2 separate regions of the Homo sapiens genome follow, and region 1 is linked to region 2. The links come from fine-mapping of genetic effects on gene expression. A gene starts in region 2. The other region holds a variant in brackets. All regions are shown on one strand. Distances are from middle to middle.

Region 1 (5,367 bases), 710 kb after region 2:
TCTTGCTGTGTCACCTAGGCTGGTGTGCAGTGGCACAAACATGGCTCACTGCAGCCTTGATCTCCTGAGCTCAGGTGATCCTCCTGCCTCAGCCTTCCATTTAGCTGGGACCACAGGCGCACGCTAGCATGCCTGGCTAATTTTTTTTTATTTTTGTAGAGATGGGGTCTCACTTTATTGTCCTGTTCTCAAACTCCTGGGCTCCAGTGATCCTCCCACCTCGGCCTCCAAAACTGTTGGGATTATAGGTGTGAGCCACGACAACTGCCCTGGACTTGCTCTTCAGAAGACCATGGCTTCCTCTTGCAACCTGTAGCCTGAGGCTGGTCTCCAAAGCCGCACAGATGCCTCCTCCTCACGGTTTTTTTCATGAGCTCTGGGCTTCCTGGGTGGGGCTGGAGGTGAGGAAGGGATTTGAGAATTGGGGGATTGATTGTATCTCAAGGCAGAACTCTGGCTCATTGGTCAGCCGCCTCTGGGAGATGTCCTCTCTCCAGCTCGGTGTGCCTGCACAGGTTTGAGTCCCTGCTGTTGAGAGATGACATTGTGCTGGCAGTCCTCAGAGCCCTCGCTTGCTCTCGGCACCTCCTCTGCCTGGGCTCCCACTTTGGCGGCACTTGAGGAGCCCTTCAGCCCACCACTGCACTGGGGGAGCCCCTTTCTGGGCTGGCCAAGGCTGGAGCCCACTCCCTCAGCTTGCAGGGAGGTGTGGAGGGAGAGGCGCGAGCAGGAACCGGGGCTGCATGCGGCGCTTGCGGGCCAGCTGGAGTTCTGGGTGGGCGTGGGCTTGGCGGGCCCTGCACTCGGAGCAGTCGGCCAGCCCTGCTGGCCCCGGGCAATGAGGGACTTAGCACCCGGGCCAGCAGCTGCGGAGGGTGTACTGGGTCCCCCAGCAGTGCCAGCCCACCGGCGCTGCGCTCGATTTCTCACCGAGCCTTAGCTGCCTTCCCGCGGGGCAGGGCTCGGGACCTGCAGCCCGCTATGCCTGAGCCTCCCACCCACTCCATGGGCTCCTGTGCAGCCCGAGCCTCCCCGACGAGCACCACCCCCTGCTCCAGGGCGCTCAGTCCCATCGACCACCCAAGGGCTGAGAAGTGCGAGCGCATGGCACGGGACTGGCAGGCAGCTCCACCTGCAGCCCCGGTGTGGGATTCACTGGGTGAAGCCAGCTGGGCTCCTGAGTCTGATGGGGCCTTGGAGGACCTTTATGTCTAGCTCAGGGATTGTAAATACACCAATCAGCACCCTGTGTTTAGCTCAAGGTTTGTGAGTGCACCAATCCACACTCTGTATCTAGCTGCTCTGGTGGGGCCTTGGATAACCTTTATGTCTAGCTCAGGGATTGTAAATACACCAATCAGCACCCTGTGTTTAGCTCCAGGTTTGTGAGTGCACCAATCGACACTCTGTATCTAGCTGCTCTGGTGGGGCCTTGGAGAACCTTTGTGTCAATACTCTGTATCTAACTAATCTGATGGGGACGTGGAGAACGTTTATATCTAGCTCAGGGATTGTAAACGCACCAATCAGCACCCTGTCAAAACAGGCCACTAGGCTCTACCAATCAGCAGGATGTGGGTGGGGCCAGATAAGATAATAAAAGCAGGCTGCCCGAGCCAGCAGTAGCAATTTGCTCGGGTCCTCTGCCAGAGTGTGGAAGTCTTGTTGTTTTGCTCTTTGGGTCTACACTGCTTTTATGAGCTGTAACACTCACCGCGAAGGTCTGCAGCTTCACTCTTGAAGCCAGTGAGACCATGAGCCCACCGGGAGAAACGAACCACTCCAGACGCGCCGCTTTAAGAGCTGTAACACTCACTGTGAAGGTCTGTAGCTTCACTCCTGAGCCAGCGCGACCACGAACCCACCAGAAGGAAGAAACTCCGAACACATCCGAACATCAGAAAGAAACTCCAGACGCACCACCTTAAGAGCTGTAACGTTCACCGTGAGGGTCCGTGGCTTCATTCTTTAAGTCAGTGAGACCAAGGACCCACCAATTCTGGACACACTGTGAGCACAGGTATGAGCCCCTGTGGTGTGCACAGGTGTGAGTCCCTGCCAAGAGCACATGTGTGTTTAGTTGGGCGTGCGCCTTTGGTTCAAACCTAGCCCCTTCATGTTTCAGCCATCTCAGCCCCACACACAGTATTACCTTTGACCCTCTGCCCACCTCTGCCTCAAGGCACCTCCCTACCTCTTAGCTTTGTTTGAATCCTTCCTCTACCTTCCACCTTCCTCTACCTTCCAATCCTCTCTCGACACCACGTGGATTTCCTGGTCACCAGACCCTCTGCCTCCACTCGCTCCTCTGACCTGCTAACTTCGAATTGTGTGGTATC[G/A]GGGATAATGTCTTTTTTTTTTTTTTTTTTTTTTTTTTTTTGAGGTGGAGTCTCACTCTGTCACCCAGGCTGGAGTGCAATGGCGTGATCTTGGCTCACTGCAACCTCTGCCTTCCGGGTTCAAGCGATTCTCCTGCCTCAGTCCCCTAAGTAGCTGGGATTACAGGTGCCCAGTACCACGCATGACTTAATTTTTTTGTATTTTTAATAGAGATGGGGTTTCACCACGTTGGCCAGGCTGGTCTCAAACCCCTGACCTCAGGGGAGCCACCCACCTCAGCCTCCCAAAGTGCTGGGATTACAGGCATGAGCCACCATGTCTGGCCAGGGACAATGTCTTTTTGTATTCTTCTGAAAGATCCTGTAAATCAAACTGAGGGAGACATGATGTCTCACCTGCTGGGCACCAGCGGGCTTGGTGTGGCTTGCCATGGATTAGGGTTGGATTGGTGAGAAGGAAGGACACAGGTGGGAAACTGAAGGACAGGAATGTGACCAGGCCCCCCAACGGTGCAGATGGACAGGCATCAAGAAGATCCCTTTGAGTCTAGGTGTGGTGGCTCATGCCTGTAATCCCAGCACTTTGGGAGGCTGAGGAGGGCGGATCACCCGAGGTCAGGAGTTTGAGACAAACCTGACCAACATGATGAAACCTGTCTCTACTAAAAATACAAAAAAATTGGCTAGGCATGGTGGCTCACACCTGTAATCCCAGCACTTTGGGAGGCGGAGGTGGGCAGATCATGAGGTCAGGAGTTTGAGACCAGTCTGCCAACATGGTGAAACCCCACCTGTACTAAAAATACAAAAATTAGCCGTGTGTGCTGGCAGGCGCCTATAGTCCCAGCTACTCAGGAGGCTGAGGCAGGAGAATCGCTTGAACCCGGGAGGTGGAGTTTGCAGCGAGCTGAGACCACGCCACTGTACTCCAGTCTGGGCGACAGCATAAGACTCCGTCTCAGAAAAAAAAAAAAAAAAAATTAGCCAGGTAGCCGGGTGCATGCGGTGGTTCATGCCTGTGATCCCAGCACTTTGGGAGGCTGAGGCAGGATGGATCACCTGAGGCCAGGAGTTCAAGACCAGCCTGACCCACATGGAGAAACTCGGTGTCTACTAAAAATACAAAATTAGTTGGGCGTGGTGGCGCATGCCTGTAATCCCAGCTACTTGGTAGGCTGAGGCAGGAAAATCACTTCAACCCGGGAGGCAGAGTTTGCGGTAAGCCGAGATTACACCATTGCACTCCAGCCTGGGCAACAGGAGCAAAATTCTGTCAAAAAAAAAAAAAAATTAGCCAGGCATGGTGGCTTGCGCCTGTAGTCCCAGCTACTTGGGAGGTTGAGGAAGGGGAATGGCTTGAACTCAGGAGGCAGAGGTTGCAGTGAGTGGAAATCGGCCACTGCACTCCAGCCTGGGTGACAGAGCAAGACTCCATCTTCAAAAAGACCAAAAACAAAAACAAAATGGACTATTGGAATAGCCATTTAATTTGCTGTCTTCCGAATATCTAGTTCACCACTGATGTTTGAGGAAACAGGCAAGTTTATACCTGTTGGTAGGCAGAGCAAAGAAGTATTCACTTTCATAGGGCCTGAGTGGAATTTTGGGGGTGTCCAGGTAAAGAAGAAAATTCAGGCTGGTCGAGGTGGCTCATGCCTGTAATCCCAGCACTTTGGGAGGCTGAAGTGGAGGGATTGCTTGAGTCCAGGAGCTTGAGACCAGCCTGGGCAACACAGGGAGACCCCAGTCTCTACAAAAAATTAGCTGGGCATGGTGGTGTGTGCCTGTGGTCCTAGGTACTTGGGAGGCTGAGGTGGGAGGATCACCTGAGCCCAGGAGGTCAAGGCTGCAGTGAGCCACGATCGCTCCACTGCCCTCCTGCCTGGGCGACAGAGTGAGACCATGTCTCCAAAAAAAAAAAAAAAAAAAAATCAAAAGTGGAGATCTTCTATAATATCTATATGTTCTGCTTGCATCTTGCCCTGGCCAAGTAGGGAACACTTGCAGCAAAGCAAAGAAATCTTTTGTTTTGACTCCCCTGCTCCCTTGAGTTAACTCCAGCCCATTCCTGCGTTGTTTTGGGATCCAGAACAGCTGGGAGCACAGACTGCTGGAGAAATCAGGATGAAAACAATTCTGTTCCTACCAGCACCTTCCTGAACTTCTGAGAGAATTGCAGAATCCATGTTCTATAGGGCAATGGGTGTGGTGGGGCGGATCTCTGTTTTAGATTAACAGGAGGATTTATCATGCCAAGAGGTCAATATTTACATTGGCTTTAGCATCATGAGTATTTACTTCTCTGTTCAGTGGCTCTCCCTGCTGACTTCAGCAGAAGCAAGATCTGCTTTTTGTCTGCTGAAGAGGATGCTGACTGATTACGTTCTTATCAGAAAGGTCTGGAAACAAAACTGTCACGGAGCCCACTTCCTTGGTGAAGCTTGTCTTCTTTCATCTAGAAATCTGATCTGGCCAGGCATGGTGACTCACGCATGTCATCTCAGCACTGTAGAAGGCCAAGGCGGGCGGGTCACCTGAGGTCAGAAGTTCAAGACCAGCCTGACCAACATGGTGAAACCCCGTCTCTACTAAAAAAAAAAAAAAAAAAAAAAGAAATTAGCTAGGTGTGGTGTTATGTGCCTGTAATCTCAGATACTTGGGAGGCTGAGGCAGGAGAACTGCTTGAACTGAGGAGGCAGAGGTTGCAGTGAGGAGAGATCGTGCCATTGCACTCCAGCCTGGGTGACAGAGTGAGACTTGGTCTCAAAAATAAAAAAAAAATCTACTCCAGCCTTGGGGACAGTCTCATGCTCTATAACTAATCTCTCTAACTAATCTCCTTCTACTTTTTATCTCTGTAGATTTGTGTATTCTGGACACTTCACATAAATGGACTCGTGACATTCATGTCTTGTTTCTTTCACTCAGCATAATGCTTCCAAGGTTCATCCATGATGTATCAAGTACTGTATTCCTTTTCATGGCTGAATAATATTCCATTGTACACATATAGCACCTTTTTTAAAAT
Region 2 (5,367 bases):
CCAGCCTGGGTGATAAGAGGGAGACTCCGTCTCAAAAAATCAATCAATCAATAAAAGTCTCAGTGAGCTAGGAGTGAAAGGAAACTTCCTTAATTCAATTTTAAAAAGCTGTCTGGAGCACAGCAAAGTTCATTGTCAATGGCAAAGTATTATAAAAGCATTGCTATTAAAGTCAGGAAATAGGCAAGGATACCTACTGCCACGGTTACCTTAAATTCATGTCCTCTCAAATGCAATGAGAAATGAAAAAAAAAAAAACGTAGAAGGTATAAGCATTGGAAAAGAGAATCTCCATCTCCTACTATCTGTAGCTTAGCTGATTACCTACTTAGAAAACCCAGGCGAATCCACTGAAAAATTACTCCCGTCCCAAAAGAGGGCTATGGGTGGACCTAGCTTTTGGATCTGCACCCACAAATGCATTTGCTTACTTGTTTTTCTTTTTTTCTTTTCTTTTTTTTTTTTTTTGAGATGGAGTCTCGCTCTGTTGCCCAGGCTGAAGTGCAGTGGCGTGATCTCGGCTCAATGCATGCTCCACCTCCTGGGTTCAAGCCATTCTCCTGCCTCAGCCTCCCGAATAGCTGGGACTAGAGGCGCCCGCCACCATGCCCGGCTAATATTTTGTGTTTTTAGTACAGACGGGGTTTCACCGTGTTAGCCAAGATGGTCTCGATATCCTGACCTAGTGATCTGCCCGCCTCCGCCTCCCAAAGTGCTGGGATTACAGGCCTGAGCCACCGCACCCTGCCGTTATTTTGTTTTTGAAACAGGGTCTCGCTCTGTCTCCCAGGCTGGAGTGCAGTGGCATAATCTCGGCTCACTGCAACCTCCGCCTCCCCGGCTCAGGCAATCCTCCCCCGTCAAGCTCCCAAGTAACTGGGACTACAGGCACTCGCCATCATCCCCAGCTAATTTTTGTGTTTTCTTTGGTAGAGACGGGGTTTCATCGTATTGCCCAGGCTTGCTTGCTTGGTTTTCTGATTCCCTAGAATGCGGCTTCTCAGAACCCCTCAGCGCTCCCTGCTCCAAATCTAGGCGCCTGGGTGAGGCATTCAAGGCTTTTCTGGGTCTGTCCAGTCTGATACTGGATGCTGCACCCCTCTGATCTCAGACAGTCAGCTCCCTCACCTCCCAAATATGCCACCCTCAGAGCCTCAGTCCCCTGGAACCTCAGCTCCGAATGCCTGCCATCCTTCCCAGGACCGCTGAACAGGGGGGCCAGGAAGGCAGATGGGAGGACTCAGGAGGGGGACCCAGACACCAGAGGCCTGGGCCAGGAGGCAGGGAGGCCCAGTCTGAGCGGATGAGGGGAGGGACACTCGAGAACAGGATGGGGCAGGGCCATCCCTACCTGATGGTGTCCTCCAGGCGCCCCTCCCCCAGGAACTGCAGGAACATGGCCTGGAGGTCGCTCCAGTAGAGTCTGCCCTGGTGGAAATCCAGGTCAGGCTCATAGTTGACATCCTCACTGACCACCAACACAGAGTCTCCGCACGCCTGGCAGGACCCTCGGAAGGCGACGTAGCCCAGTAGGAAGGCTGGCGGGTGGCAAGATGGGGATTCTCTTTATGCCCACCTCTGGACCCCAGAAATCTCCCCCAGCCCAAGCCCTTCACTTCTGGGGAGGGGGACGGCTCTCACCCCCAGTGAAGATCAGCAGGGCCGTCAGGACCAGGTAGGGGGCAGCCCTCCGTCCTGCTGCCGCCCAGGGAATGAGGTTTGGCTGCCTGGGTCTAGAGCCCAGGGGCTCAGGGCCCCTCAGCTCCATGGGGCAGAAGTGGGCCAATGTCTCCGCCCCCTCCTCCCCGTCTTCCTCTTCCTCCTCCAGGTGCCCTTTCCGGGGGCCTTCCACACGCTGGTAGACGGTCTGAGAGGATCTTGGGGACAGTTGTTGCTGTGCAGGCGAGGTGGGCATGAGATTGGGGCAAGAGGCCTGGGGGGTGGGGAGGCATCTGGCAATAATGAGGTCAGTGACTTGGGGGTGTCAAATGAGCATGGTGGTGGGGGCGTGGGGGAGGGGCAGGGGTGGGAAGAAGCGAGGTCAGGACACGGTCCAGGAGGGGCCAGCCTCAGGGGCTTGGGAGGGGGCTGAGGGACTTAGAGAGAAGGCCTAAGGGGTCTTCCCAATCCCACTAGTCTTACCGCTCTCTGGAATAGACCCCAAAGCCGCTCCATGCTTGTGTCCCCTCCTGAAGCCTGCAGGCTGTCCCCCAGCGATAAACCGATAAACCGTTTGTGGGAGCCCTAGGAGGGCCCCTTATCAGTCCTGGCAGGCAGCCTGAACCAAGGCTGCTCCTCACCACCCCCAAGGGTGGGGGCACAGTCCTGGCCTCAGTCCAGCCTTCCAGACGTGGCCCCCGGGTCCAGGCCAGAGCACAAGGGGCTGTGCTCTCCCCTGCCAATCTCTCCACAGCCCCACGCCTGCCTCCTCCCTGCAAAACAATCAATTTTTTGACCTTGGGGCGGACTTTGGCCTCCTAGTTCCCATCAGGGGTGGGGGAAGGGGGCCGATAGTGGGGGAGGGCAGAGACATGGGTGCCCCCTCCCCTCTCCTGCTTTTACCCCTCCCTGGATCCTGGGGACCCCTTCCTAAGCCCCGCCATGCCCAGGTGGAAGATTCACCCCTAAGACATCTGCCCCTTCCTCATCTGGCCTTCAGAGTCCCCCAGTGCCCCGGTCCTGTGACATATCAGCTGTCCTCCCTGTCCTGACACTTGCCCCAGTGGCATTCTAAGCTGGAGGCACCACAGTGGTGTGACTTGGGGGTCTGGTCTGGTGGTGTGCATGTGTGTCTCTTTTGAAAGGTCGTTCTCAGACTCCTGCTGGCTGCTGGAGAAGGAGGGGCACAGGTGGGAGCACATGGTCAGATGAGACCAGCGAGAGCTCCCAGATAGGGGTCCTGGGGTCAGGGATATGTGGGTCAGTGGGGAGGAGTGATCAGAGTCCCCGCCAAGGTGTGGGCAGAGCTGGGTGACCCTGGACAAGTCATGGTCCTCCCTGGGCACCGGCCCGTTTGGTCACCGAAGGACTTGGATCACATGGGTTTCTACCTCTTTGGGTTCTGAGGCTGATGAAAGGCCAGTTAGCCTCACCCCAGAAACATGTCACAGGCATAAACTGCTAAACAGGCAGGGGGCGCAGGTCCCCAAACCCTTCCGAGGGCCCCAAGACAAGTAGCTCTGAAGAGGAGGGCTCAGGGTCCCACCAAGTTTCCCTTTCGGGTTTCCCCTGGGAAACATCAGCTCCTACTCAGGTCCAGAGAAGTTCCGAGCTGCTGGGATGCACCAGCGCCCTAGTCCCCGCCCCATGTCTGTCACCACCAAGAGCCCCAGGAAGGAAGGCATAGCGCATCTCACCTGAGCGCAGGTCCTGGGGTGCTCAGGCGTGCTGCTCCCCTGAGACCTAAGGCCTACGCTGAGGCCCCGCCCACCAGGCCCCACCTCCTGTTCCGCCCATCCAGGCTTCACCTCCTGCTCCACCCACCTCCTGCCACACTCACCCCAGGCCGTGCCCCTCCACTGCACCCTGCAGCCCCTCCCACCTCCCACCACAACTGTTAGCCCCCAGCAACTCCCCCAACCCCCGGTCCTCGTCATGTGGCCCTCCCTGGGTCACAACCCCTAGGAAACCTGAGGAATCCATGGCCCCTGGGGCTGTGTCCCAGCACCCACTGTGGGATCGGCATGGGTGTAGAAGTGAGACTCCCTCCCCTCACCTCCCTCCAGACCCCTGTGCCCACTCCCCACCCCACGGAGGCCAAACTTTTTTTTCTTAAAACATTTTTACTTCTTTCAACCCAGAAACATCACCATTAATGAGGACAAGAGGGAAAGGAGGAGGGGGGCAATGTGGCATGGGGGTTAAGGGACTTCCATCTGAGCTTGGGAGCAGGTGTGTGGGGAGGAGTGCCATCAGGGGCACTTTCGCTCCACGCACTGCTTCCCGCCCTCCTCATATTCCTGCTTGGAGATCCACATCTGCTGGAAAGTGCCCTGGGTGGAGGGGGTAATATCAGGGTCAGGGTGGCCTTGGAGGGAGGTGTGGACAGGCAGGTGCAGCCCCTGGGAATCCTCCAACAGGCCCCAACCACCCCTTGGGTTCACATCCCTCTGAAGCCCCTCCCCACCTCATCCTCCCCTCCTCGGTCTGTCCCCTTTCATATTCAGAGGGAGAGTATCCTCTTCATATCATTCAATCAATAATTCATTCATTCAACAAGTATTATTGAACAGCAGTCTCTGCCCTGAGCTAGGCCCTGTTCCTGAGCTGGGGGGATGGCACGCACAGCCCCAGGCCAGGCAACCTGCACCTGGCACTCAACACCCCCTACACACACACAGTCCTTCCCCACCAGGTGTCCTCTTCTCACTCCATCAGGGCTTTGGAACACCGCCAGTCTCCCTCTTTCCCAAGGAAGATATTCCCTCCACCTCACCATTCCAACACTGTGGCACCCCATCTGCAGCCTTCGGCATTACAACTTGCCCCTTGAGGGTTCCTGCAATGAGCATCTCAGAGTGTCCCTTCTCTCTATTTTTTTAAAATTTTAATTTTAATTATTTTTATTTTTATTTTATTTTTTTGAGATGGAGTCTTGCTCTGTCGCCCAGGCTGGAATGCAGTGGTGCGATCTTGGCTCACTGCAGCCTCCGCCTCCCAGGTTCCAGCGATTCTCCTGCTTCAGCCTGCTGGGTAGCTGGGATTACAGGCGCGTGCCAACACGCCCGGCTAATTTTTGTATTTTTAGTAGAGACAGGGTTTCGCCATGTTGGCCAAGCTGGTCTCAAACTCCTGACCTCAGATGATCCGCCCGCCTCGGCCTCCCAAAGTGCTGGGATTACAAGCGTGAGCCACCGCGCCCAGCCTAATTTTTATTTTTTGTAGAGATGGTGTCTCACTATGTTGCCCAGCCTGGTCTCAAACTCCTGGGCTCAAGTAATCGTTCCACCTCAGCCTCCCATAATGTTGGGATTACAGGCGTGAGCTACCACGGCTGGGCTTCTTTGATCTTTCTCAGCCTACACACATGTGCTGTCCAATGCAGTGGCCACTAGCTTCCTGTAGCTCACCAGCCCTGGTCCAAATTGAGACGTGCTCTAAGTGGAAAATACACACCCAATTTTTTTGGGTTTTTTTTGAGACAGGATCTTGCTCTGTCACCCAGGTTGGAATGCAGTGGCACAGCTCACTGCAGCCTCAACCTTCCAGGTTCCAGTGATCCTCCAACCTTGGCCTCCCAAGTAGGTGGGACTACAGGTATGCGCCACATTGCCAGTTGCTTTTTAAATTTTTTGTAGAGATGAGGTCTCGCTTTGTTGCCCAGGCTGGTCTAGAAATTTTGGGCTCAAATGATCCTCCCGCCTTGGC

What was found. PIP is the estimated chance that this variant, and not a neighbour inherited with it, causes the effect.
Region 1: its variant is fine-mapped to the expression of TFR2 in nucleus accumbens (GTEx, PIP 0.95).

The regions. Positions count from the first base shown.
Region 1 is chr7:101,347,862-101,353,228 of GRCh38, forward strand. No RefSeq gene overlaps it. Among named protein-coding and RNA genes, the nearest start is that of COL26A1, 12 kb to the right of the region's middle. The variant G/A (reference allele first, on the strand shown) is at 2,340.
Region 2 is chr7:100,639,335-100,644,701 of GRCh38, forward strand. TFR2 (transferrin receptor 2) reads right to left here and starts at 2,218. Exons shown (of 18, transcript NM_003227.4): 1 at 2,143-2,218; 2 at 1,642-1,894; 3 at 1,352-1,538. The coding sequence starts at 2,175. It overlaps ACTL6B (actin like 6B), which reads right to left. Exons shown (of 14, transcript NM_016188.5): 14 at 3,763-3,992. The coding sequence ends at 3,912.